Regions from separate parts of the Homo sapiens genome. Here region 1 is linked to region 2. The links come from fine-mapping of genetic effects on gene expression. A gene starts in region 2. The other region holds a variant in brackets. All regions are shown on one strand. Distances are from middle to middle.

Region 1 (11,942 bases), 39 kb before region 2:
TTACCGGGGAAGACCAAGGCTGCGGTGCTGCCAGAGGTGAGCGGTGTGGCCTGTTGTGGCTCAGGGCCTACCGCCAAGTGCTGATCTAGAGGTTTTGCCCCTTGGCCATGCTCCCCAGTGAAGACACTGGGGTTAAACCCTGGTCAGGGTCAGCAGTCACGCTGGGGACTGAGCGCAGGAAGGAGGCTCCAGCTGTGCCTGGTCTCTGGTCTCCTTGGGAGTGAGAGGCTGGTTGGCAGGGATGATTTCGCAGGACTTCCTGTGACCTTTGTCCAGAGGCACCACCTCTGAGGGGCTGCTGTGGGCTGGACAGCAGGTGCTTCTGCCGGTTTCTGCGTCCTGGAAGTGCTGCTGTTTGTAGGGGATGAGGTAGGGGGCCATCTGAGCCTGTGTGGTCCCTTCTCCAGAGCAGCAGAGCGTGTACTTAGGAAGGACCTGCTAGGTGCCCCTGCCCTCAGAGGCTCTGGGAGAGAGCTGTGTGCAAGCCCTGGGCAGGAGTTCACTGGCCTGGTCGTGTGACCTGTGGGGCATCCTGACAGCCAGCCCTGTGCTGCAGAGGTCAGTGGGACTGGGTTTGGATCTGGGTCCCCGCCCAGCGTGAAGGGGCGCTGGACCACGAAGGCAGGGAAACCAGGGGGAGGCCGGCAGGACAGTCAGTGGTCCTGCTGCCGCAGCCCCGTGCAGGCTTAGACCGCCCAGCCTTGGGATGAGCGCCGCTGGGGGCGGAGGCCGCGCTCGGGGGCGGGGCTGGCCGCTGGGGGCGGGGCGGGGCTGGCCGCTGGGGCGGGGCCCAGCTTGTCGCTCTTTCCCGGAGGCTGGCAGATGCGCGTGGTGCGGCTGCTGCGGCTCCGGGCGGCTCTGACGCTGCTCGGGGAGGTCCCCCGCCGCCCGGCCTCCCGGGGTGTCCCGGGCTCGCGCAGGACGCAGAAGGGCAGTGGAGCCAGGTAAGGTGTCCCAGTGAGCAGGCGGCGAGGGCCCTGAGCACCGGGCTTGGGTAGGTCCAGAAAGGGGAGTGGCAGGCCTCGTGGGACGGCCTTGCCCTGCTTCCGGTTTTCCCAAAAGTCGGGCCAGGAGAGCATGCGTGCCGCGGTGTGACCGGCCCGCCTCCTGCCCGGGGTGTACAGGCCCCCCCATGACGTCGCCCTTGCTTCCCCAGGCACCACCCCACCAACCCTATTTGGGGAAATCTCCCCTCTTTTTTTCCGCTTGTGGTTTCATCATTTGTGTAGCTGTGCCTGGGCCTCAACACTGTAGGGTTTGGTTAGGTACTTTATAAAAAGCTTATGTTGCTGTGCATGGTCTTCTGAGACCCGCTCTTTCCTGGAGTCGGTTCCCGGGTTGTCTCCAGGACCGATTCTGCATGGCGGCGGGCGCTCACTGTCATATCTACATCACCAGGCACAAGCCGCATGGATCCAGTGGCCCTGGTGGCCGTTGGTGGTCCCAGGCGCTTTCCTGGAGGACATGTGAGAAGCCCTGCCGGCGCATACTGGGCCTGGGGTAGCCGCATGGGGATGGGTCTCTGCGCATGAAATGCTGGAGTTTCCGAAGAGCTGGAGAGTTGACAGCCTCACTGGTGCGTGGGAGATCCTGCAGGAGTTCCCGCCAGGTCTCGCGGTTTATCATCATTCACTTAGTGCTTCCAGCGTGGCATGTCTCTGTGACCTGGTGGTGCGCTATCAGCATACCCATTCACAGCTGAGGGCCTGCACAGCTGCCTAAGGCCATGCTGCAGAAATGTCCTGTCTGCCTGCAGGAGCTTGGGACCCAAAGAGAGCCCCAGATGGGGCAGGGTGTCTTGGGAGGAGGGAGTTCTGGCCTGCGCTTGGAGCTGGGGCTGGCTGTGGGCCCTGCATTGAGGCACATCTCTCCGAGGGTGCACAGGCAGGTAGGTGCTTTCCAAAAAGTGCTGCTGAGCTGCAGTCGCCCAGGTGGACAGGTGGGTTTGGAGCAAGGTCTCTGGCTTTGAAAGCCAGCTTGTGTCTGATGGTGGTGCTTGGTGCCCTGGTCTCTGCAGGGGTGAAAGAATGTCACTACAATGTGCAGCCCTCAGTTGGGCTTGAGCGCACACCCAGTGGTGCAGCCCTGCCTGGCCGCTGGCCGGCAGGTTGTTTCACCTCAGTGTCTTCATCTGTGAAATGAGACTGGTGATGTGACTACCCTAGAGGCTTTGTGAAGGACTTGGCAGTCAGGGTCACTGTCAGTTCTTTATTTTTATTTTTATTATTATTATTTGAGACAAAATCTTGCCCTGTCACCCAGGCTGGAGTGCAGTGGTGCAATTTCAACTCACTGCAACCTCTGCCTCCTGGGTTCAAGTGATTCTCCTGCTTCAGCCTCCTTGAGTAGCTGGGATTACAGGCACCCGCCACCACGCCTAGCTAATTTTTGTATTTTTAGTAGAGACGGGGGTTTTGCCATGTTGGCCAGGCGGGTCTCGAACTCCTGGCCTCAAGTGATCCGCCCGCCTCGGCCTCCCAAAGTGCTGGTATTACAGGCGTGAGTCACCGCGCCTGGCTCCTATCAGTTAGTTCCGAGATACACGTGGTTTCCCATTTTCTCACACCCGACATGATCCATCTTCCCTTATTCTCTAAGAAGGCGTTGTCTAGGTTTGCATCCTTCAGGGCACTTAGTGGTGCAGCCTCCTACCAGCCCCACCCTAGACATGCTGTATCAGGGCTGGTGGGCTCTCTTGAACTCCTAAAACCTGTAAGAAAGGTGAGGCTGGTCTCACCTGACGTGGAAAAGCTCTGCAGAGTCAGCAGAACCCCCCTCTCCCCGAGTCTCCCTCCAGACTCCAGCTGCCTGCAGCATCTGCCAGCTAGTTTTTTTGTACTTTCGCCATGTTGGCCAGGCTGGCCTTGAGCTCCTGAGCCTGCCTCAGCCTCCCAAAGTGCTGGGATCACAGGCGTGAGCCACCACGCCCGGCTCCACCCTGGAAGGTTCTTGAGCCCGTTAACTTCTCCCTACTTTATCAGCTCCGTCTCTACGTCTTCTAACCTTGCCCATTCCCTCCTCTGCAGAAACAGCCAGAAAGGCCCTTTCAGAAATGTCTGTTGCACATGCTTTCCCCTCTCAGACCCTTCAGAGACTTCCTGTTGCTCTGAGGACACTCATCCCAGCCGACCAGGCCCACCAGGCCCCCAACAGCACTACCTGGCTGGGGTCACGTGCAGGTCTCCTGGCTCTGGCAGGTGGGGGTGTGATCTGGAACCTTCTGTCCTTGTGCGTCTGGGGGAGGCTCAGAAGGTGTGCCCATCTCACTCTCCCCCATCCTGATGGTGCTCCCACCCTCTCGCCAAAGCCTCTCCCACTGAGGCCTTTGCACTGGCCATCCTGGGTGCTGGACTTGCTCTTCCCGCAGCCCTGCTGACCGAGCCTGCCCACTGCCTGCCAGCCACGCCCCATCTCGCTCCTCTTCTCCCAGGCCCATCTCAGAATCTAGGTTCAGTTGAGCCCTTCGTATGGGTTTTGGTGATCTGCATCCGCAGGACCCAGCGCAGTGCTGGTTCAGGGCAGGCTTGGGCTTGCCTCAATGGATAGATGATGACTGGCCTGGAGAGTTAGGATGGGCTGTAGCCGCCACGCTGGCTGTGTCCCCCCACCCCCTCCAACACCCCCCCAATCTCCAGAGCTGGGCTTGCCAGAAGGGGGCGCCCTGGGGAGGGGGACCTTGGCAGGGAGCCCTGTGGAGCCTCACTGTGTTAGTGCCTTACAAAAGGAGCCCTTCCCTGAAAACCCCTGAGGCTTCTGGCTTCAGGGCCTCCCCTCCCTGCCCCGCCTCCTCCACCCCGCCCTGCCTCTTCCACCCTTCCACCCTGCCCGATCCTCTGTGGGCGGCGGTCCTGCGCCCTGCTGTGGTGCCTCTCCACTGGCTGCACTGCTGGACCCCCTTCCACCCAGCTCCTCGGAGGCAGGGCTCTCTCATAAGCAGCCAGGTCCTTTATTTAGCAAATGAAATGGTCCCATGGAGAGGTTCCCGAAGATTCTAGACCGGCTCTGAAGGGACCCATCTGGGGAGAGGCCCTAGAGCCTGGGAGAGGCACGTTGCCTTTCCCACTTAGCTGGGCTTGCCCTTTCCCGCTTAGCTGGGCTTGGTGGGATCCGTGACTCAGCAGCACACGGGCCTCTGCAGGTGGGGGGCATGGGCGGGTACACGGGCATGGGGTCTGAGGTCAGGTAGGGTTGCCTCCCTCTGCAGGCCTTGTTTTCCTCCCCCGTGAGGTGGAGGCCACACTGCTCACCTGCTAGGAGCCACAGGGAGGAGCCACTGTGGGAGCGGGGAAGAGGCTCATGCAGGGCCTGGCCCAGGAGAGTGACACGTCCTGTCTCCGTCTTTAGGTGGGAGAAGGAGAAGCACGAAGACGGGGTGAAGTGGAGACAGCTGGAGCACAAGGGCCCGTACTTCGCACCCCCATACGAGCCCCTTCCCGACGGAGTGCGTTTCTTCTATGAAGGTAAGGATGCAGGGAGCGGCTCCTCCCCAGCCTGCGCTTGGTTCCCTGGGCGTGGGCTCCCAGTGGGCATCTGGCTCGCTCCCTCAGCCCCCCTGCAGGCTTCTGGCTATGAGCGCTCTGTGCCCTCTTCTTGCAGGTGATGCGTGGGGGCTGCTGACCAACTGACCCATGCTCAGAGGGTGGCAGTTCGGGGGCTCCCGTCCCTGCCTTTCCTGCTGAGCCTGCACTGGCTGTGCCTGTTGTGTCCAGGACCCTCTGGGCAAAGCGGACCCCCCCTCCCTCCCCCCGCACCACTGTGTTCCCTGTGTGTTCTGAGTATACACAGTACGTACACTGCGTGTACACACATGGATCACAGAACGGTCACTTGACCCCAGCTTGTGATTCTCAGCAAGAAGCGGAGCCCGTGGTTGACATGAGCGCTGAGCCACCCTCAGAGGCAGGACCCGGGGGCTCTGGGGCAGCAGGGCCCACACACCCCTCCTGCCCTTGAGCCCTCCTCTCTACCCCAGGGCCCAGGAGCTTTGGCTTGGCTCTTGTGCTGCTGATTTTAGCTGCTTCAGCCTATTTTCTTCATCTCTGCTAGAAGGCATCCTTCTAAGAAAAGCAAACCTCTTCTCCCCCAGGGCAGGCCCCCACGCCATGCTGTGCCCCTCCCACCAGCCCTCCCGTGGGCCCCCTGCCGAGTCACATGCACACCTGAGTTTGCTGAGCTCCTTTGATGCAATGTTTTGTTCAAAGCCTGTTTCTCCAAAGCGGTACTGGAGCTTCCACAGGGACAGAGGTTCTAGCTGTGTCTGTGGGGGCTGCCCACGGGAGGCCATGGGACCTTACTGAGCGTCTCGCGCTGTGCCCCTGGCCTGGTGTAGCGGCTGCCTCGCCTGCCCCACAGCAGCCCTGCAGGACCTCCCTGGCCAGGAGGGACATGGCAGGCGAGGACTGCTTATGCAGGGCCATGGTGGACAGTCCGGGGAGTGGTGGTGTCGCGTGGGGCCCAGTGGGGCCGAGCCTCCACAGAGGGGCAGTGGGAGCTGAGCCCCTCGGGCCTGTGCTGCTGGTCTCTGGGCCTCTCGTCCTCTGTCCTGAGAAGCTAGTTTGGGGAAGGATTGCTGCTGTTTATCAGAAATGCCTTCCTCCTTCTTACCAAATGATTATGCATTTATTTCTCTAAAATTTTCTTATGAAAGCTTTTCAGACGTGCAGTTGAAAGAATTCCTGGTGAACACCCTCGTTCCCACCACGAGCCTCTCACTCTGCTCGCCTGCTCCCAGCTCACCCCCCATCTCTAAACCACACTGATCTTAGAATAAAATGCAGGGAATGGTGGGACAGAGGCCGCAGAGTTGTAAAAGGGTACACCTAGTTATTCAGTTTTCTGCTTTGAAGCCTTAACTTTTATTTTACTTGTGAAATTTTGTGGAAATTGGTGTGTTTTAAAATTGTACATGTTCCATTTTCATGTAATATAAATGTAGTAGCAACGTTAAGTGGTAAAGGAGGAGAAAGCAGTAGCGCCTGAAATCTTCTGCAGCTTTCTCACGACCCGCTCCCAGATCACTGTGGTCGCCACCTCCACGCAGGTTGATTGTCGTGTGTCATGCAGAACATGCTTCTGAACTTACAGAAGAAGGCCTAGCTTCTTGCTCTTGGCATAGTACGCACGAAAGCGTAGTTTAAAGCAATGAGGTCATGTCAGCTGGAGGCCGAGCCTCTGGCCGCTCTCTCATACGATGTGTCTTCCGATGCCTGCAGGAAGGCCTGTGAGATTGAGCGTGGCAGCGGAGGAGGTCGCCACTTTTTATGGGAGGATGTTAGATCATGAATACACAACAAAGGAGGTTTTCCGGAAGAACTTCTTCAATGACTGGCGAAAGGTAGGTACCCTGGGCGGCCGCCACAGCTGTCCTGGACCTGGCTGGCTAGGCGTCTGCGGTTCTGCAGTGCTGCCTCTGAACGCCCCTCGCAAGTTCTCGGTGGCCCCTGTGTGACCACTCACAGGTGCCGTCATGGCTCTTTGCAGCTTCGAGCTCCTGGGCTCAAGCCATCCTCCTGTCTCGGCCTCCTGAGTAGCTGGGACCATAGGCGGTGCCAGTGTGTCCAGCCTAGTGCACCTCAGACCTTTCCCTTCCCAGGCAGGCTGTGGATGTGGAGGCCGATTTGTGGTCCTTACTCCATGGACCGCTGAAAGGACAGGGGTCTGGCATATAAGAAGGAGAGTAGAGGAGGCCGCATGCCATTTCCCAGCCCCCAGGAAGACATGCTTGGCGAGAAGCTCTTTGGAGGGGAGGGTGCTGCCTCAAGGCTTTTTCCTTGCTCATTTTCAAGGTGACTGCCCTTCGCCCATGGCCTGACTGATTTTATGTGTGTGCCGCGGATTCTGTGCCCTCCGGGGTTTCTGTCTGCCCCACACCTGCGAGGCTCGCCCCTGACTGCTTGTCCCGCAGCATCTTCCTGGCTCTGGCCGGGTCGCGTTTCCTCTGTTCCGTGACTCATGCTAGTCCATTTCCCTATTCGTGGGTGTTTGATTAATTCCTGTTTTAGGCCTTTGCATGTGTAAAGCTGCCATGAACATTCCCACGTGGGTGAGGGCACATA[T/C]GTGTGAGTTGCCTCTGACAGGACTTGGGGTGAAATTGCTGGGTCACGTGTGTCCAGCTTACTAGCAACACCAGGCTGAACTGTCCACACGCCTGCCGCGGGTGCGAGGCACCTTTCTAGTGGGCACAAAATGACACCTCGCCGTGGGTGTGGTTTGCGTTTCCCTAATGACAAGTGATATTAAGCATCTTTTGGTGTACTGACGTGTCATTTCAGTATTTTCTTTCGTGAACTTTTGTCTATTTAAAAAACTGAGTTGCTTGCGTATTCCTCGCTCATTTATCGGAGTTTTAAAAACGCATCCTGGGTGCAGGTTCTTTGCCAGACGCACATGCTGTGAATGTCATCTCCCAGACTTTGCCTTTTCACTTCTCAGTGAGGTCTCCAAACAGAAAACTGTAACTTAGTTATGCCGTTTATCAATCTGTCTTTTATGGTGAGTACTTTTGTGTCCTGTTTTAAGTCCATTATCAGAAATATGATTTGCAAAAATCTTTCATGGTGTTTGTAGTTTCTATTTGCGTTCTCTTAACAATGTCTTTGGAAGGTCAGGAGTTTGGAATACTGATGAGGTCCCACGTTTCATGTTTTGTCACAGGTTTGCTTTTGTTGTTTTGTCTAAGAAATCTGCTGAATTCGGCAGCACAGAGATTTCCTCCTATGTTTTTCCTAGAAGTTTTGGTTTTAGGTTTCCATTGAGGTCAGCTTGGTTTAGGTGGAACTCTGAGTTAATTTTGGTTATAGTGTGGGGTAGAGGCCGAGGCTCGTGTGTTGCATGTGGGTGTCTGACTGCCCCGAGCCAGCTGCTGGAGCCTGTGCTTCCTTGTCCCCTGTGCAGGCTCCGCTTCTGGACCCTCTTCTTTGGCCTGATGCCACCCCTCTGCCTTTCACGACAGCTTTGTGAGGTGGCACCAGCTGCCCGGCATCCTCATTCTCCCTCTGGTCAGCACTTCTTCCAGTCACTAGCAGAGCTAGGAAGGGAGGCAGTGTCACAAAGCAGCAGAACAGGAGTGGGTGGCACATCCGGCGGCCCCGGGAGACACAGGGACGGACCCTGAGCCCGTGGTTGTGGCCGAGCAGGGCTCCATCCTGGCACAGATGGTGTCGTACCTGAGCTCCTCGGAAGAGGCGGATCATCCCCATCCCACAGCGAGACACGTTTGACAGCAGCTCCTGAGGTCTCACAGGCCTAAGTGGCCGAGCCTGGACTGGGACCGTGAGCTGGTGCCCGCAAGCCTGGGCTTTTGTCCATGGGCTGTGCAGAGTTTTTGTTGTGTAGGAAACGAAAGGAGAAACAGTTGCCTGTGATCTGCGGCTCTCCCTCAGGTCAGTGTCTCCTGTTCCCGCGTCCTGGCTTTTCCTGGGCACTAGTTTTCGTGTGAGTGTGATCAGTGTGCCTGTAATGTTTTCCCCACTTAGCATTTTATCCCGCTTAGTCTCCACACGGGTAGATCATCGTCAAACTGTTTTCTGCTGTGCTTTCCAAAATTCACCTTGAAACTGAATCCCCAGCACCACAGGACAGAGGGAGGGCCTTTAGGAGCTGATTGGGCTGTGAGGACTCCACCTTGCTGCAGCCCTTAGGATTAATTTAGGGCCTTAGGGCAGGGCTGGGTGGAATTAGCTGGGCCCCTTCTGTCCTTCTGTCCCCTCCACTGTGTGAGGACAGCCTTCAGGGCATCCTCTCAGAAGCAGGGACTGGGCCCTCCATAGACGTCAAATGCTGGGACCCTGATCCCAGCCTTCCAGCCCCCAGAGCTGTGACTATGATTTACAACTGACCAGTCCCCGGTATTTTGTGGCAGCAGCACGTATGGACTGAGACTTTGCCCTCGCGAATCCCGTCACGTTCACCAGATGAGCTCCCGACCATGTATCCTGCTCTGTCCGGTCATGACGTTTCTGCAGTTGCCCTTAGTGCGGTCGTCATCCGGGTTTTCATACTGGAGAGTTTATTTAGGATGGATCTCAAAGTGGAATTATTGGGTGCAAAGGTTTTAGCCAGTTTTACTACTGACTTGTTGTGAAGTTGCTTTTGGAGAACTGTGCCCTCCGCTGCCCCACCCAACTCCATGCCTGCAATAACAGAACCAGCTCTATCTGTGGGGTCTGCGGGGAGAGGCTCTATTTACGGGGCCGCAGGACCGTGCGCAGGTTCTGCCTATTGCACACACGCCTCCGTCGGACATGGCGAGAGCGCGTTTCTGTCCGTCAGACATGGCGAGAGCGCTCTGCATGTCTGTCCTTCAGACATGGTGAGAGCGCGTGTCTGTGGTTTTTGCAGGAAATGGCGGTGGAAGAGAGGGAAGTCATCAAGAGCCTGGACAAGTGTGACTTCACGGAGATCCACAGATACTTTGTGGACAAGGCCGCAGCCCGGAAAGTCCTGAGCAGGGAGGAGAAGCAGGTTGGGCTGCCTCGAGCGTTGTGTGACCTGAAGTGGCCCCTGGGAACGAGAGGCCGGCCTGGCCCAAAGACTGAGAAAGGCCTGTGGCCTTAGAGAAGCCCCTTCTCACAAAGCTGCTCTTTTCTCGTCAGCCTTAGCGCCCCTGCATGTGCTTAAGTGTCGTTCCGCTTCCCCAGAGCACATTTGAGAGTAAACCCGGTTTGAAATGGATAATTTACCATCATTGATCAAGGGTGGGTTCCCAGACGGGCCGTGGGCTGAGGGCGGGGCTTGTGCAGGCCAGTCGGCTTCTTGCTGTTCTGTGCCATGCGTCTCCCTACATCTAACAGGAACCTGCCGTGCTGTGATCTCCATGTGGCCTTCTCAGGGATTCCCTTAGCCCTCCTCCTCCATGGCGGGCAGCCACGCTCCCTCCACCTGGCTTTACTGCTTAGGCCTAAAACAGCCGAAGTCTGTGCAGGGGCCGGGGAGTCCAGGCCATGGGGTGGTTAGGCCATGGCTCTCGGTGCCCCCTGCAAGCCCACCTGCACTGTCCCCTGCCCCTGCAACCTCCATGGATTGTGAAGGGCTTTGAGGGTCCAGCTGAGTTAGCCAGACAGAGCAGGGTGGTCCCGGGTTAGCAACAACGGACTGAGGCCTGTTCTCTTCTCTTCACTGCTAATGTCCACTGACTGTTTTATTAACTCAGAAGCTAAAAGAAGAGGCAGAAAAACTTCAGCAAGAGTTCGGCTACTGTATTTTAGATGGTCACCAAGAAAAAATAGGCAACTTCAAGATTGAGCCGCCTGGCTTGTTCCGTGGCCGTGGCGACCATCCCAAGATGGGGATGCTGAAGAGAAGGATCACGCCAGAGGATGTGGTTATCAACTGCAGCAGGTGCGTGGCCGGGCGGGCAGCAGGCGGGCACTGGACCCCCGCCACCCGGGTGAGGCTGGCTTTTCTTCACCTCCTGGGAGAGGGAGGCACACCGAGAAACATGTGGTTGGTGACCCCCACACCATTCCTGTGGAGCTCAGCCTGTAGGCGTGGCCGGGCAAGGGCGGCCTTCCCAGGGTGCTTCCCACGGGGTCGGAAGTCCTCGCCTTGCTATGGCTGAGACTTTCTCCCGCCAAGGACACCTCCATGTGGTTTTCATATCCCACACCATCTGGATGGCCCAGTAGCATTAGGTGTTTTGAACTTATTGGAGGGACATTCCAAGTGGTGGAGAGGGGACTGCTGGGCCACATGTTGTACTGTGTGACCACAGGGTGGAGTAGGGACCCTGCCTGCAGGACCCCCAGTGGCCAGGCTGTGTGGGGCAGGGCACTCGTCGTCCCAGTTGGTGCTGAGAGGTCTGTGCAGAGCGGTGCCTTGCTTGGGTGGCCGCCCAGCCTCCTGGTGCACTGTGGCCTTCCTGTGTGTGCAGAGGGTAGATTGAGTGGCTGCTTTTGTCTGAGCTGCCAGGCAGGCCACCTCTGATGCCAGACTCGGTCAGGAGCCATGCCACCACCATAGCCACCACGTGGGACGGTTGACCAGAGCAGCTCCTTTTGCTTGCATTCCAGAGAATAAGGTCTCCAAGTTATGTTTGGGTCGTTGTTCTGCTGCAGGGACTCGAAGATCCCCGAGCCGCCGGCGGGGCACCAGTGGAAGGAGGTGCGCTCCGATAACACCGTCACGTGGCTGGCAGCTTGGACCGAGAGCGTTCAGAACTCCATCAAGTACATCATGCTGAACCCTTGCTCGAAGCTGAAGGTGAGCGCAGGGCTTGGCAGGGTGTTTCCTCCCCAGGAGGTCCCCCTGAGGACGCCGGCAGGGAGGTGTGTAAGCCGGGCACCGGCAGAGGCTTCTGAGATGGGCTGGGAGTCGGCCAGCCCGTGCTGAGGTCATGCTGTGCCAGCAGGCACAAGCCCCAAAGCCAGGAGTGGGCATGGGTGCTCACTGCCGGCATCACCCAGCTAGATTTGCTGCCCCAGCCCCTGACCACGGCACCACTGAGTGGAGAAGCACGAGGTTTGGGGGAGGGAGAGTTGACAGCCTCCTCCGTTATTTAACAGGAATGTGAATGTTTTCTTTCCTGTTATTTTCTTCGTTTAGGGGGAGACAGCTTGGCAGAAGTTTGAAACAGCTCGACGCCTGCGGGGATTTGTGGACGAGATCCGCTCCCAGTACCGGGCTGACTGGAAGTCTCGGGAAATGAAGACGAGACAGCGGGCGGTGGCCCTGTATTTCATCGATAAGGTATGCGGCCTTCTCGCTTCCTGGCGGCTCTTCATCCTGGTTCTCCTGGCGAGGACTCCCAGTTGGATGGTGCAGTGTGGCGACGTGGGCCTGTGTGTGGGGTGGAACCTCATTCTGATGGGGGGGGTGTGTGCATGTGCACACGTGTGTGGGTGTGAACATGTGTGTAGGGTGTGCATGTGCATTGTGTGGTGTGTGTGCACTTGTGCGTGTGGTGTGCCTGTGTGTGGCATGTCTGTGTGGGGCGTGCATGTGTG
Region 2 (11,942 bases):
GAGGTTGAAGCTCTGGCCGAAGGCCTTGCCGCACTCGGCGCACGCGTAGGGCCTCTCCCCGCTGTGCGCCCGCTGGTGCCGGACCACGTGCGAGCTGTGGATGAAGGCCTTCCCGCAGTCGCTGCACTCGTACGGTTTCTCCCCCGAGTGGATGCTCCGGTGCTTTGCCGCGTCCGAGGAGCACTTGAAGCTGCGGCCACAGGCGCCGCACGGGAAAGGCCGCCCCTTCCAGCTGCCCCCGCCCTCTGCGCCGGGGCCTGCGTTCGGAGGGACGTCTGACTCGAGGCCACTCTGTCCTCCAGTTTTCTCAGAAGTGACCGGGCCTCGAGGGGAACCTCCGGGCCTCTCTCTGGCTTCCTGGTTTTCACAAAGGCCAAGAGACCCCAACGCCCGGGGAGGCCCCCCTCTGTGGCCCTCTCCCTCGGGAGCGCCTGCCTCTGCGGCAGGCTCCGTGCTCTGAGCTGCCTGCACCTCGGCTGACCGGCTGCCACTCGGGGCCTGCGCCAGGAAAGCAGCCTTCACAGCTGAAAAAGAGGCCAGACAGGAACGATTTTAGATGTAAGAGAACGTGAGTCGAGGGTGGCTCTGGCAATCGTGGTGACGACAGAGTGACAGTGATGGTGACGTCAGTGTGCCACAGACACCTTTGATTTTGCCCATTCAGTTCCCGCCTCGTTTTTTTTAGTTTTTTTCTCCTCCCCACCTTCTTAACCCCCATGGTTATGAGGTAGACGAGAATCCTGCACTGCCACTCCAGAAACGGGGCTGTGGGGCCGGATGTGGTGACTCACACCTGTATCTCCGCACTTTCAGAGGCTGAGGCAGGAGGACCACTTGAGACTTGGAGTTCAAGACCAGCCTGGCCAACATAGTGAGATCCTGTCTCTTAAAAAAATAGAATTTTAAAAATATACAAACAGAAACGAGGCTAAACGGGGCTAGAAACAGGGCTAAACCTCTAGCCTCGGCCCACCCAGTCCTGGGAGGGGAGGGGACAGAAACGCAGGCTCTGGGCACTGCCTTACTCTGCGGGACAGCTGGGAAAGCAAAGGAGGCTGGAGACAGCTGGCAGCAAGCCAGGACGGGAGCGAGGCAGATGTAGCAGGAGGCCCGGGGACAGTGGCACCCAACAGAGCCCACGGCCCAGCTCTGCCTTCTGTCTGTCCTTCCTTCCTTTCTTGTGAGCCAGGGTCTTGCTCTATCACCCAGGCTGGAGTGCAGTGGTACCATCATGGCTCACTGCAGCCTCAGGGCTCAAGTGATCCTCCCTCCGCCTCCCAAGTAGGTGGCGCACCTCCAGGTGAGCACCACCACACCAGGCTATTTTAAAAATTTTTTGTAGAGACAGTGTGTCAATGTGTTGCCCAGGCTGGTCTTGAACTCCTGGGCTCAACCCTCCTCCCACCTGAGCCTCCTAAAGTGCTGGGATTACAGGTGTGAGCCACCACACCCAGCCATGGCCCCAGCTCATTCCTTTTACCTTGGACTCCCTGAGACAACGCAGACTCCTTAACAACTGCCCCCAAACACCAAACTCTAAGGGCTTCTGTTATGTGCAAACAGGAGCGTCCTCACTCAGACAGAAATCCGGACCAAGAGGCCAGTCGCGGTGGCTCACGCCTGTAATCCCAGCACTTTGGGAGGCTGAGGTGGGCAGTTCACGAGGTCAAGAGATCAAGATTAGGTGAAACCCTATCTCTAATAAAAATACAAAAATTAGCTGGGTGTGGTGGTGCACACCTGTAGTCCCAGCTACTTGAGAGGCTGAGGCAGAAGAATCACTTGAATCCAGGAGGTGGAGATTGCAGTGAGCTGGCGCCACTGCACTCCAGCCTGGCGACAGAGCAAGACTTTGTCTTAAAAAAAAAAAAAAGAAAAGAAAAGAAATCCGGAACAAGAGCTGGAAGCAGCAACCCACGTCCCATGTGGGCTGGGCGGCGGCGGCGCTGGTCAGGCTGAGCAACCCCATCCAGGCTGCGTTATCAATGGCCCTTGTCTGGCAGTCAAGCCACTGGTTAGATTTGGTTCCACTGGCTCACAGGGACAGACCATGTGGCCATTTAGAAAAAAGGCTTAAGGGGTAGGGGTGAAACCCTGGGACATGAGAAAGCTGGCAACTGAGCTTGGCCTGCATAGGAGGCAGGAGGACTCAGCCAGGAGGGGCAGCAGGAGGAGGGGGGCCAACGAGGCCAGCACAGCAACTGAGGAGGACTTCTCAGTCTGCAGGCAGTCCGCTGTGGCAGCAGAGGAGAAGCGGCTGAGTCCCAGCTGCACCTCTCAAGAATGTGGAGGGCGCAGATAAGACGGAAGCTCCTGTGGAGGTGGGGGTGGGGCAGGGATGTTCCAGGGCAGATGAGAGCAGGCTGCTATCGACAGTCCCCACCTCTCTCTGCCCTTGCAGACCCCTGACACTGAGCAGCCAGGGGGCGGGAGGCGCTCAGGGCGGCCTGCAGAACAGAAGCCCCTTGGCAGAGGCCCAGCCCTGGTCTTGTGGTTTGCAGACTTGGAAGTTCAAGAACTGACTCAAAGGTATTGCTTATGAGGAAAAAGAACCAAGACTATGGTGAGAAGGGGACACATACGTGGTGGAGCTCTACTGGATCCAGCCTGCAGGCCCCAAGGACGCCTTTCCGATGGAGGCAATCCCAGACCTCACAGCAGGGCCTGCACTGCCCACGCCATCTCCCGGGCTGTTGCTGTGACACACTCTCAGGGTGGCCCCAAAACATAAAGCAGTGTTCTCATGGGGGCGATTTTGTCCTGAGGGCACATTTGACAATGTGTGGAGATGTTTTGGATTGTCACAACTGGGAGGGGGCCCTACTGACACCAAGTGGGCAGAGGCGAGGGTGCTGCCGAACGTCCTACAACACACAGGATGGCCCCTCAACAAAGACTCGTCCATTCCAAAACAGCCACGGTGCCAAGGTGGAGAAGCACTGAGAGAGAGACCTTCCCAGAGGCAGAGCCTGGGGCTGCCAGACTTTCTAACCAAAAGCTCTCAGTTCACTGGCAAAGACAGTCACCAAACAGATGCCCAGGAGATCTGATGGGCCTGCGTTTACCTCCCTCCCTCACCCTGCGCCCAAGGACACAGTATATGCTCTGCGTCAGTGACTGAGACATGGTGTTTTTCCTGTATTCCTGTTCAATTCCTGCCCTGGAACTCTGGGCCCGACTGTGGACATGTCCCCTCACCTGCAAGGGACTCCATCAGGGTACTGCTCTCTTTAGCACCTGTGGGCTCTCCTCCTGGCTCCATCTTGCAGAACACCAGCAGTTGGAACAATTTCTGCTTAGGTAAAAGAAAAGGAAAATAAATCACAGCCAGGGCTAGGTACAGGGGCCAGGGGCAGTGAGGTCAGAATGCCTTCAGAGGAAACTGTCAGAACAGGCCCTGTGGGAGCTGCATCACCCAGCTGGGCCCACTCCTGTCACTAGCAATCAAGGTCCTGGCTCAACAGACACTCCCAGAAGCGGGTGTTCTGTTCTGTGGGATGCCCAGGAACTCTGGTCCAGGCTCTGCGGGTCCCCCTCCACCCAGGGCTGACGCAGAGCACAGGTGGGCGTGGCCACAGCTTCCTAGCTCCATGCTGAGGAAGCCCGCGCCCTCCAGCAGTCTTCAAATGTCTAGAGAAATTCCCATGGGTTTTAAAATTTTCTTGGTAGTTATAAGGATTTGAATATAAAAATGTTAAACCAGAAGAAAAGAACAACTTATTTGAATGGTAAAGTTTTGGAATGAGGAATGATTTTTCTAAGCCTGACATCAGATGTCTGACAAATTCAACTACATAAAAAAATTTAATGTAAAAAAAAAAAACCAAAAAGGGAGGAATACGTGCAATGCAAAGATTCATCCCTATCTGATAAAGACCTCTATATATTAATGAGAAAGGAAGGAAAATTGGCAAAGATCATGAATAGGTAACTCACAAAGAAGAAAAACCAGTAGGCAATACATTTTTTTAGGTCTCACCTCAAGTGCAATTAAGAAATGTAATTTGGCTGGGTGCTGTGGCTCACAGTTGTAATCCTAGCACTTCAAAAGGCTCAGGATGGAGGACTGACTGATTACAAGAGTTCCTGACCAGCCTGGGCAACATAGTGAGACCCCGTCTCTACAAAAAATCAAAAAATTAGCCAGGTGTGATGGTGGGCGTCTGTAGTCCCAGCTACTAGGGAGGCTGAGGTGGGAGGACTGCCTGAGCCCAGGAGGTCTAGGCTGGGGTGAACCGAGATTTCGCCACTGCACTCCAGCTGGGCGTTGGAGTGAGACCCTGTCTTAAAAAAATAAGTAAATAAAGTGATTAATTAGTAAATTTAATTTAAGCCGCCTGTAATCCCGCCTGCCAGGGAGGCTGAGCGGGAGGATCGCTTGAGCCCAGGAGTAGGAGGCCAGCCTGGGAAACATAGCGAGACCCCGCCGCTTTTACAAAAAGGTAATTTAAAGTGCAATTTTTTAGTCTGGAAGCAGATTTTTGCAAGTACCTTACCGGCAAGAATTAGGGAACAGGCCCTCCTGTTCACAGCTGGGAAGAAGCTCGATGAGCTGGGCCGGTGGGAAATTTGACAACTTACAAAGGCCTGAAGACGCGCAGCGGGGACTCAGCTCGCAGGAAGCCCCGCACGTGTCGGACCCCGGGTACGCACCTGCAGGGCCGCCTCCCCCACGCCGCGCCCGAGAGCGGCTGGGGCCTGCACTGCAAGGAGAGCGCGGGACGCGCGGGCCACGGCGGCGGTGACCGCCCCGTTCTCTCGGCCGCGCCCTCAGCCCTCCCGAATCGACACCCCAGCAAGAGAAGCCGGGGCCTCAGCGTCCAGAGCAGCTGGACTGCACCCGCTACGGTCCCCGCCCCGTCGCGCGCCGGAAACGCCAGTCTCCACCCCTGGCCCGCCCCCTCGGCACTTCCGGCGACGCTCTGGGCAGCGGGAGGACAGCGCGCTCGGCGGCGGGAGAGCGGGACGGCCCAGCCGCGGCGCCTTCAGCTCATCGGTTGCCCGCAGGCGCCGGCCGAGTCCTTCCTGCCGGGCAGGAAGCCCTGCCTCGTGGGGGGCAAGGTCGAGCCGTTGGCGCGCCGGGATCCGGCTCGAGCCAACTGAGGACCGGGCACCCGCAGGACGTGTCAGGAGGTGTCGAAGGCCCGCTGTGGGGCGGCCACGCGCGTTCCCGTCCGTTCCCCGCGGCGTCCCGCGCTTGTCCCGGGTCCCGCTCGGCTCACGGGACCCTCCAGGCCCCCGGGGCTGTGGCAGCACGCGGGTCCCGAGCGTGGGCTTCCTTGGGGCCGAGAGCTTGGAGCGCCCCAGGCGCTGCCCCCCGCCTCCCTGCAGGACGCCGCCCTCGCGTCTCCGCTGCAGAGAAGCCCTTGCTGCCCGCCTCTCGCGGGCTCTGGGCTCTTTCTCACCAGGGACCGAGCTCTCATTCGTTCAGCCTTCCCCGGGCAAGATGCACCTCCTGTCCAAGTCTCTCGCCCTTCCGCCTGCCGCAGACCGAAGGTCACGCATCTCCAGCTGGAATGCTGCAAAAGTGACGCTTTTCATCATGGGTGCAAAGTGTACAGCTGCAATGTGGACTTGTTCCCTCTTACAACGAGTAGACAGACCCTCTCTGGGGAGAAAAGAAAGGCTGAAGAACCGATTCCCATGAGAGAACCCTAAGAAGACAGCAACAGAGGGCCAGACGCGCCCCTGGAACTGGACCCTGGACTGGGGCGGGAGGGCCACAGCCTTGGGAGCCCAGGTCCCTGCCCGCGCCTCCGACAGTCCCGCGCCGCCGCCACCCGGCATCTGCCTCTGGGCCTCCACATCTCGTGCCTGGAACCGCGTTCATTGCGCACTGCACCAGTAAACACCTGAACACTCCCACCACATGCTGCACGTTTATTTGTAACAAATTAGAAGCTGTTGTAAAAGATAAAAATTAAAACACTTAGACTGGGTGGGCGAGAGGCTCATGAATGTAATCCCAGCACTTTGGGAGGCCAAGGCAGGAGGATTGTTTGAGTCCAGGAGTTTCAGACCAGCCTGAGCAACATAGTTAGAACCGTGTCGACTAAAAATTTTTTTTAAAAATTAGCCGGGCGTGGTGGCCGGCGCCTGTGGTACCAGCTACTCGGGAGGCTGAGGCGGGGGGACCACTTGAGCTCGGGAGGCGGAGGCTGCAGTGAGCCGAGATTGGCACTGCACTCCAGCCTGGGTGACAGAGATTCTGTCGCAAAACAAAAACAACAACAACAACACACACCACACACACACACATCTAAAAGAGATGATGTAGAAGTACAAGTAACCGTTTCCCTCTGCATCCCAGTGGAACGTCGTGGGTCTTCTGAAGACCCTCTCTTGCCCTGCAGGCTCCGGTACTCCAAGCACGCGAGTCTGCGCAGGAGGCGCTTCGCTCTCCGGAGCTCCCCACTGCCTCCTAGACACAGTCCCGGCTCCTTACCCCGGGCGGAGGCTCTTCCAGACGGGTCCCGACTGCCTCTGTATGCCCACTGCTGCCGTGCCAGAAGCCACTGCCCTCTCCTCGCCCCTTTCCAAATGTGCCCTGCCTCAGGCCCGTGTCATGCTGTTCCCTGTGCCGCTTTCGCCCGTCCCCTCACTCCCCGCCACCAGAACCGGGAAGGCGGTGCCCCCTTTCCAGGCCCAACTTCCGGCACTGAACCTCTAGGAGTCCGCAGCCTCCTCCGCCCGGGCCTCTCCCCGCTGGCTCAGACCGCAGGGCCAGCAGCCCCGCCCACACGGAAGCCCCGCCCATCAGGCCGACCCCGCCCCTCCTGCCTCGGCCCCGCCCTCGCCTTGGCCCCGCCTCCTCGCTGGCAGCCGGCAGGCGCAGTCGGGGTCGTGGGACCCAGGAGGGGCCTCCAGCAGGTGCCTTGGCGAAGATCCTGGACTGCGTCACAGCCCAGGGTAGCCGTCCCGCGGCCCGGCTTTGGAGCTTCCCACGGACACCCGGGGCTCTGCCTCCTCCGAAATCACCCCTCACCGCTTCCCTCCTGCTCTCCCACAATGGGAGGCCACACGCTGGGGCCCCTGAGAAACAGAATCGAAAACACAAGGCAGGACTCCAGGGACATGGGGGTGGGGGAGTGAATCCAAGCAACTCAGGACGCCCGCGAATAGCTCAGATCCTGCGAAGAGCCCGCGCCCTGGAATTCTGTTTGCTAAGGGGGTCCTCACGGTGTAGGGTGAGACAGAGAACCTCTGGGCAGTTGCAGGTGGTAAATGTCCATGATAAAGGGCAAGTTCACAGTCTAGAAAATTCTGGATTTCTTGATCCAAAAGTAGCCGAGTCCAGGCCGGAGAGGTGGCTCACGCCTGTAATCCCAGCACTCTGGGAGGCCAAGACAGGAGGATCACTCGAGGTCAGGAGTTCGAGACCAGCCTGGCCAACATAGTGAAACCCCATCTCCACCAAAAAAAAAATTACAAAAAATTAGCCAGGCATGTTGGTGCTTGCCTTAGTCCCAGCTACTCGGGAGGCTGGGGCAGGAGAATTGCTTGAATCCAGGAGGCGGAGGTTGCAGTAAGATTTCGCCACTGCACTCCACAGTGAGACTCCGTCTCAAAAAAAAAAAAAAAAAAAAAAAAAAAAAAAAAGTAGCTGAGTCTTAGAATACCACCCCTTCAAGGACTGTTTCCATGAGCCTATCCACTGAGTCTCTTACCTGCTACCCTGAAAAAAAAAAGTACGATGAAGAAATTACCAAAGGCACCCCTGAAAAACAAAGACAGCTGGGCCTGGCGCAGTGGCTCACTCCTGTCATCCCAGCACGTTGGGAGGCCGAGGCGGGTGGATCACCTGAGGTCAGGGGTTTGAGACCAGCCTGGCCAACACGGTGAAATTCCATCTCTACTAAAACTACAAAAATTAGCCGGGAGTGGTGGTGTTCGCCTGTAATCCCAGGTACTCGGGAGGCTGAGGCAGGAGAATCACTTGAGCCCGGGAGGTGGAGATTGCAGTGAGCTGAGATCACGCCATTGCACTCCAGCTTGGGTGACAGAGTGAGACCTGTGGGGAAAAGCAAGAGAGATCAGATTGTTACTGTGTCTGTGTAGAAAGAAGTAGACATAGGAGACACCATTTTGTTCTGTACTAAGAAAAATTCTTCTGCCTTGAGATTCTGTTAATCTATGACCTTACCCCCAACCCCGTGCTCTCTGAAACATGTGCTGTGTCAACTCAGGGTGAAATGGATTAAGGGCTGTGCAGGATGTGCTTTGTTAAACAGATGCTTGAAGGCAGCATGCTCCTTAAGAGTCATCACCACTCCCTAACCTCAAGTACCCAGGGACACAAATACTGCGGAAGGCCGCCGGGTCCTCTGCCTAGGAAAACCAGGTATTGTCCAGGGTTTCTCCCCATGTGACAGTCTGAAATATGGCCTCGTGGGAAGGGAAAGACCTGACCGTCCCCCAGCCTGACACCCGTAAAGGGTCTGTGCTGAGGAGGATTAGTAAAAGAGGAAGGAATGCCTCTTGCAGTTGAGACAAGAGGAAGGCATCTGTCTCCTGCCCGTCCCTGGGCAATGGAATGTCTCGGTATAAAACCCGATTGTACGTTCCATCTACTGAGATAGGGAAAAACCGCCTTAGGGCTGGAGGTGGGACATGCGGGCAGCAATACTGCTTTGTAAAGCATTGAGATGTTTATGTGTATGCATATCTAAAAGCACAGCACTTGATTCTTTACCTTGTCTATGATGCAAAGACCTTTGTTCACGTGTTTGTCTGCTGACCCTCTCCCCACTATTGTCTTGTGACCCTGACACATCCCCCTCTCGGAGAAACACCCACGAATGATCAATAAATACTAAGGGAACTCAGAGGCTGGCAGGATCCTCCATATGCTGAACGCTGGTTCCCTGGGTCCCCTTATTACTTTCTCTATACTTTGTGTCTTTTTCTTTTCCAAGTCTCTCGTTCCACCTAACGAGAAACACCCACAGGTGTGGAGGGGCAACCCACCCCTTCAAGACTCTGTCTCAAAACAAACCAATCAAACCAAACAAAACAAAAACAAACAAACAAAAAAAGACCTCAGAGAAAGAGGACTGTTGTTCAAAGAAGAGGCCGTGGGTCAACTGAAGCAAGTGGACACGCAGCCAGGAAACAGGTGACACAGAAAGGAAGGACTCCCAGTCTCCTGGCAGAAGGAGCAGGGGAGGCAGAGACCTCTGAGTTACCCCTGGAAGCCGAGGGCCTGACCCCCACAGCCGCAGGATGGAAATCCTGCCACGGCCCGAATGGTCAGGGAAGGACCTCAAGCTCCACAGGAGTTCGGAGACCAGGACAGCTTAATGGCAGCTCCAGGAGACCCTGGCAGAGACCTCAGCCAAGCTGTGCCGGGCTCCCGCGTGGCAGGATCTGTGAAGTAACAGACGGGTTTTTGGTGAGCAGGTTCCAGGTGAGACACACCAGTGGCCCTAAGAGGAGAAAATGCAAGGGTGGTAGGAAGTGGCGGGTGCACCAAGACCTAGCGGCCAGCCTGACCAGCACTGACTGGCACCTTGGTGCTGTGCAGTCAAGGAGAACTGGCTCAGGCTCAGGACATTCACTCCTGCTGCGCTGGGCACCAGGGACACCCCCGAAGGTGGACAGAGCACCACGGGGGCTGCCCTGGGAGCTCGCGAAAGAGAAGGGAGAAACACAGGCACAGCAGGCACCGCCTGCCAGGTGCCAGAAAGCAGCGCGTGGAGGCCTCATTAGAAGCAGAGAGCAGGGAGCAGTGACTCAAGCAGCACTGCCAGCGGGTCCTGAAGTGTGGGCAGGAGTTTGGGGAGGGCGCTGAGGTGGGGAGGCCGCTTGGCTCTCAGGGAACCCAGCCTTGTCGCACGGATGCTGGGCTTCCTACTCTGGGGTCCTTGTAGCCACTAGGGTGTTCTAACTCAGAAAAGACACCACAGGTTTGGGATTGGAAAAGGGCTTGAGAAGCACACAACCCCAGCAATAAAAATGGGGTCAGAGCAAACACTCAGAATGGGAAACCACACGCCGGCGCGGACGGGGCCAACAGACACACAGAACCACCCGGAGTGACCTCTAGCACATCGTGTGGAGCAAAAGGAGTGCCAGGAGGGCGGGCAGACGAATCCATTCCTGAGAGGCCCGATGGCAGACAGGGCCCTCCAGAAGCTAGAATACCCATCAGCTGGGGGAGGGGAAGGGAAAGGGAGGAGAAGCTCTGGAAAGTTCCATGCTGTGACCTGGGGGGATTAGCAAGAGTGTAAACATGTAAACAGTCAAGCCGAGTGCTTAAAATTTGGGCATTTTCGCTATGTAAATTATACCCTAATTCAAAAAAATCAAGAACACCATATCCCAGGAAAACTTAATATAAAATATTGACACCAGCACGGATCTTGGTGAAGCTATTCAAGGTTATGGATGAGGAAAGAATGACCAAGGCATCCAGGCAGAAGAGGAGCGTTTCAGAGAAAGGGCAGAGGCCAAGGGCTTCCCAGTGGTGCAGGCTCAGCACAGTCCTGCAAGGAAAAACCTAAAACCCAACCACATGCCCCAAGCCCTTGCTATTCGCCATGCCCTCCGTCGAGTGTAATGGCTACAGAGGGCATTCTAGAGCTTTCAGGAGCTCAGCATGCAGCCCCTCTTGCCTGCCCCCGTGGAGCCCTCTCCCCAGATGGGAGCTGGGCTCAGGGTCCTGCTGGATGGGCACATGGACCGAGGTCCTGGGAAGCCGCCTGCTCCCACTTGCATCCTGCCTGTTACTCTCGTCACCCAGACGCTGTTCACCCAGGCTCTGCAGCAGGCGCTGGGCTGGATGGTCTACCGTGTAAACGAGGGGATTTCCCATCCCACGGGCTGCTTGAGGAGCAGCAGCCTCACAGAATGGCCATGCACAGAGTGCAGGGCGGCAGGACGGGAAGGCCCTGCCTGGAGTCAGGCACACGAGTGCCACAGTAGTGGCATGATTTTGCCCACCTGAGACTCAAGGACTGGGACACCTGTCCCTCCTCCTCCACCCACGCTGCGGGGAACTGCATGGCTCCTCCGGGCGGGGACCATAGCTTTCCGCCTCAACGTACCTGGGGCTCGGCATGCTGCGTTGAATTTTGGAGTGGATGAGGAGTGAGGGTGTGGCAGGGCGGCTGGAGCTGCCCAACTGCTGAAACTGCTGCAGGTGCCACAGCGGCTGGCTCCCTGAAAGCGTCCTCCTGCCTCTGAGACCGTAGCGCAGGAGGGTGCGAGTGCACCTCCGCAAGGCCTGACGCTGCTGATCCACTTCCTCTCCCCACGATGGGGACACACTTGGCGACAGTTCCATCTGGGGTAAAAGACCCACCAAAAGGTCGCTGGCATGGGCACTCCAGGGACACCAAAGTGGAGTCTGGGAGACCCCTCGGCTTGTGCGGGGAGCATTCCTCCCCGAAATGCTCGTCCACTTCTGGTTACAGCAATCTTTGAGGGCAGGGAGGGTGGCCAGCAGGGGGCATTGTGGAGCAAGCACGTGGGCCTCGGATCCAAGCCTGGGTTCAAATCCGGGCTGTGGGACGTCCTCACCAAGTCTCGATTTCCTCCCGTAAATGAGGGATGCTGGCGCCCCTCTCGCTGTGGGGGAATAGGGCTTCCAGCACTGCTCCCAGCAGATCTCAGACCTCAGGACGTGAAGGTTATTTTAGGGACAAGCTAACCATGAAGTCTATTTAGTGTAACAGCAAGAGCTGCTAAAAACGTGCACAGACATTCCTTGTACAGCCTGAGTATCCCTTATCCAAAATGCTTGGGACCAGAAGTGTTTTGGCGGCCGGGAACAGTGGCTCACGCCTGTAATCCCAGCACTTTGGGAGGCCGAGGCGGGCGGATCACGAGGTCAGGGGATCGAGACCATCCTGGCTAACACGGTGAAGACCCGTGTCTACTAAAAAAAAAAAAAAAAAATTAGCTGGGCGCGGTGGCGGGCGCCTGTAGTCCCAGCTACTCTG

Direction of the effects. Positions count from the first base shown, and alleles are read on the strand shown. Sizes are in standard deviations (SD) of each study's normalised expression.
For the expression in caudate of the gene that starts at base 4,847 in region 2, allele C in region 1 goes with a lower level than allele T (moderate effect, 0.56 SD a copy in GTEx).

Evidence for each region.
Region 1: its variant is fine-mapped to the expression of ZNF696 in caudate (GTEx, PIP 0.98). The same link has a PIP of 0.9 or more in nucleus accumbens.

The regions. Positions count from the first base shown.
Region 1 is chr8:143,323,742-143,335,683 of GRCh38, reverse strand. TOP1MT (DNA topoisomerase I mitochondrial) reads left to right here and starts at 804. Exons shown (of 14, transcript NM_052963.3): 1 at 804-944; 2 at 4,345-4,460; 3 at 6,213-6,334; 4 at 9,340-9,462; 5 at 10,151-10,338; 6 at 11,055-11,199; 7 at 11,542-11,685. The coding sequence starts at 823. RefSeq lists a silencer at 647-1,106 and enhancers at 1,307-1,356, 896-1,580, 3,256-3,789. The variant T/C (reference allele first, on the strand shown) is at 7,056.
Region 2 is chr8:143,284,322-143,296,263 of GRCh38, reverse strand. It overlaps ZNF696 (zinc finger protein 696), which reads right to left and starts at 4,847. Exons shown (of 3, transcript NM_030895.3): 1 at 4,497-4,847; 2 at 3,199-3,292; 3 at 1-524. The coding sequence starts at 3,262. RefSeq lists a silencer at 4,593-5,312 and an enhancer at 4,783-5,358.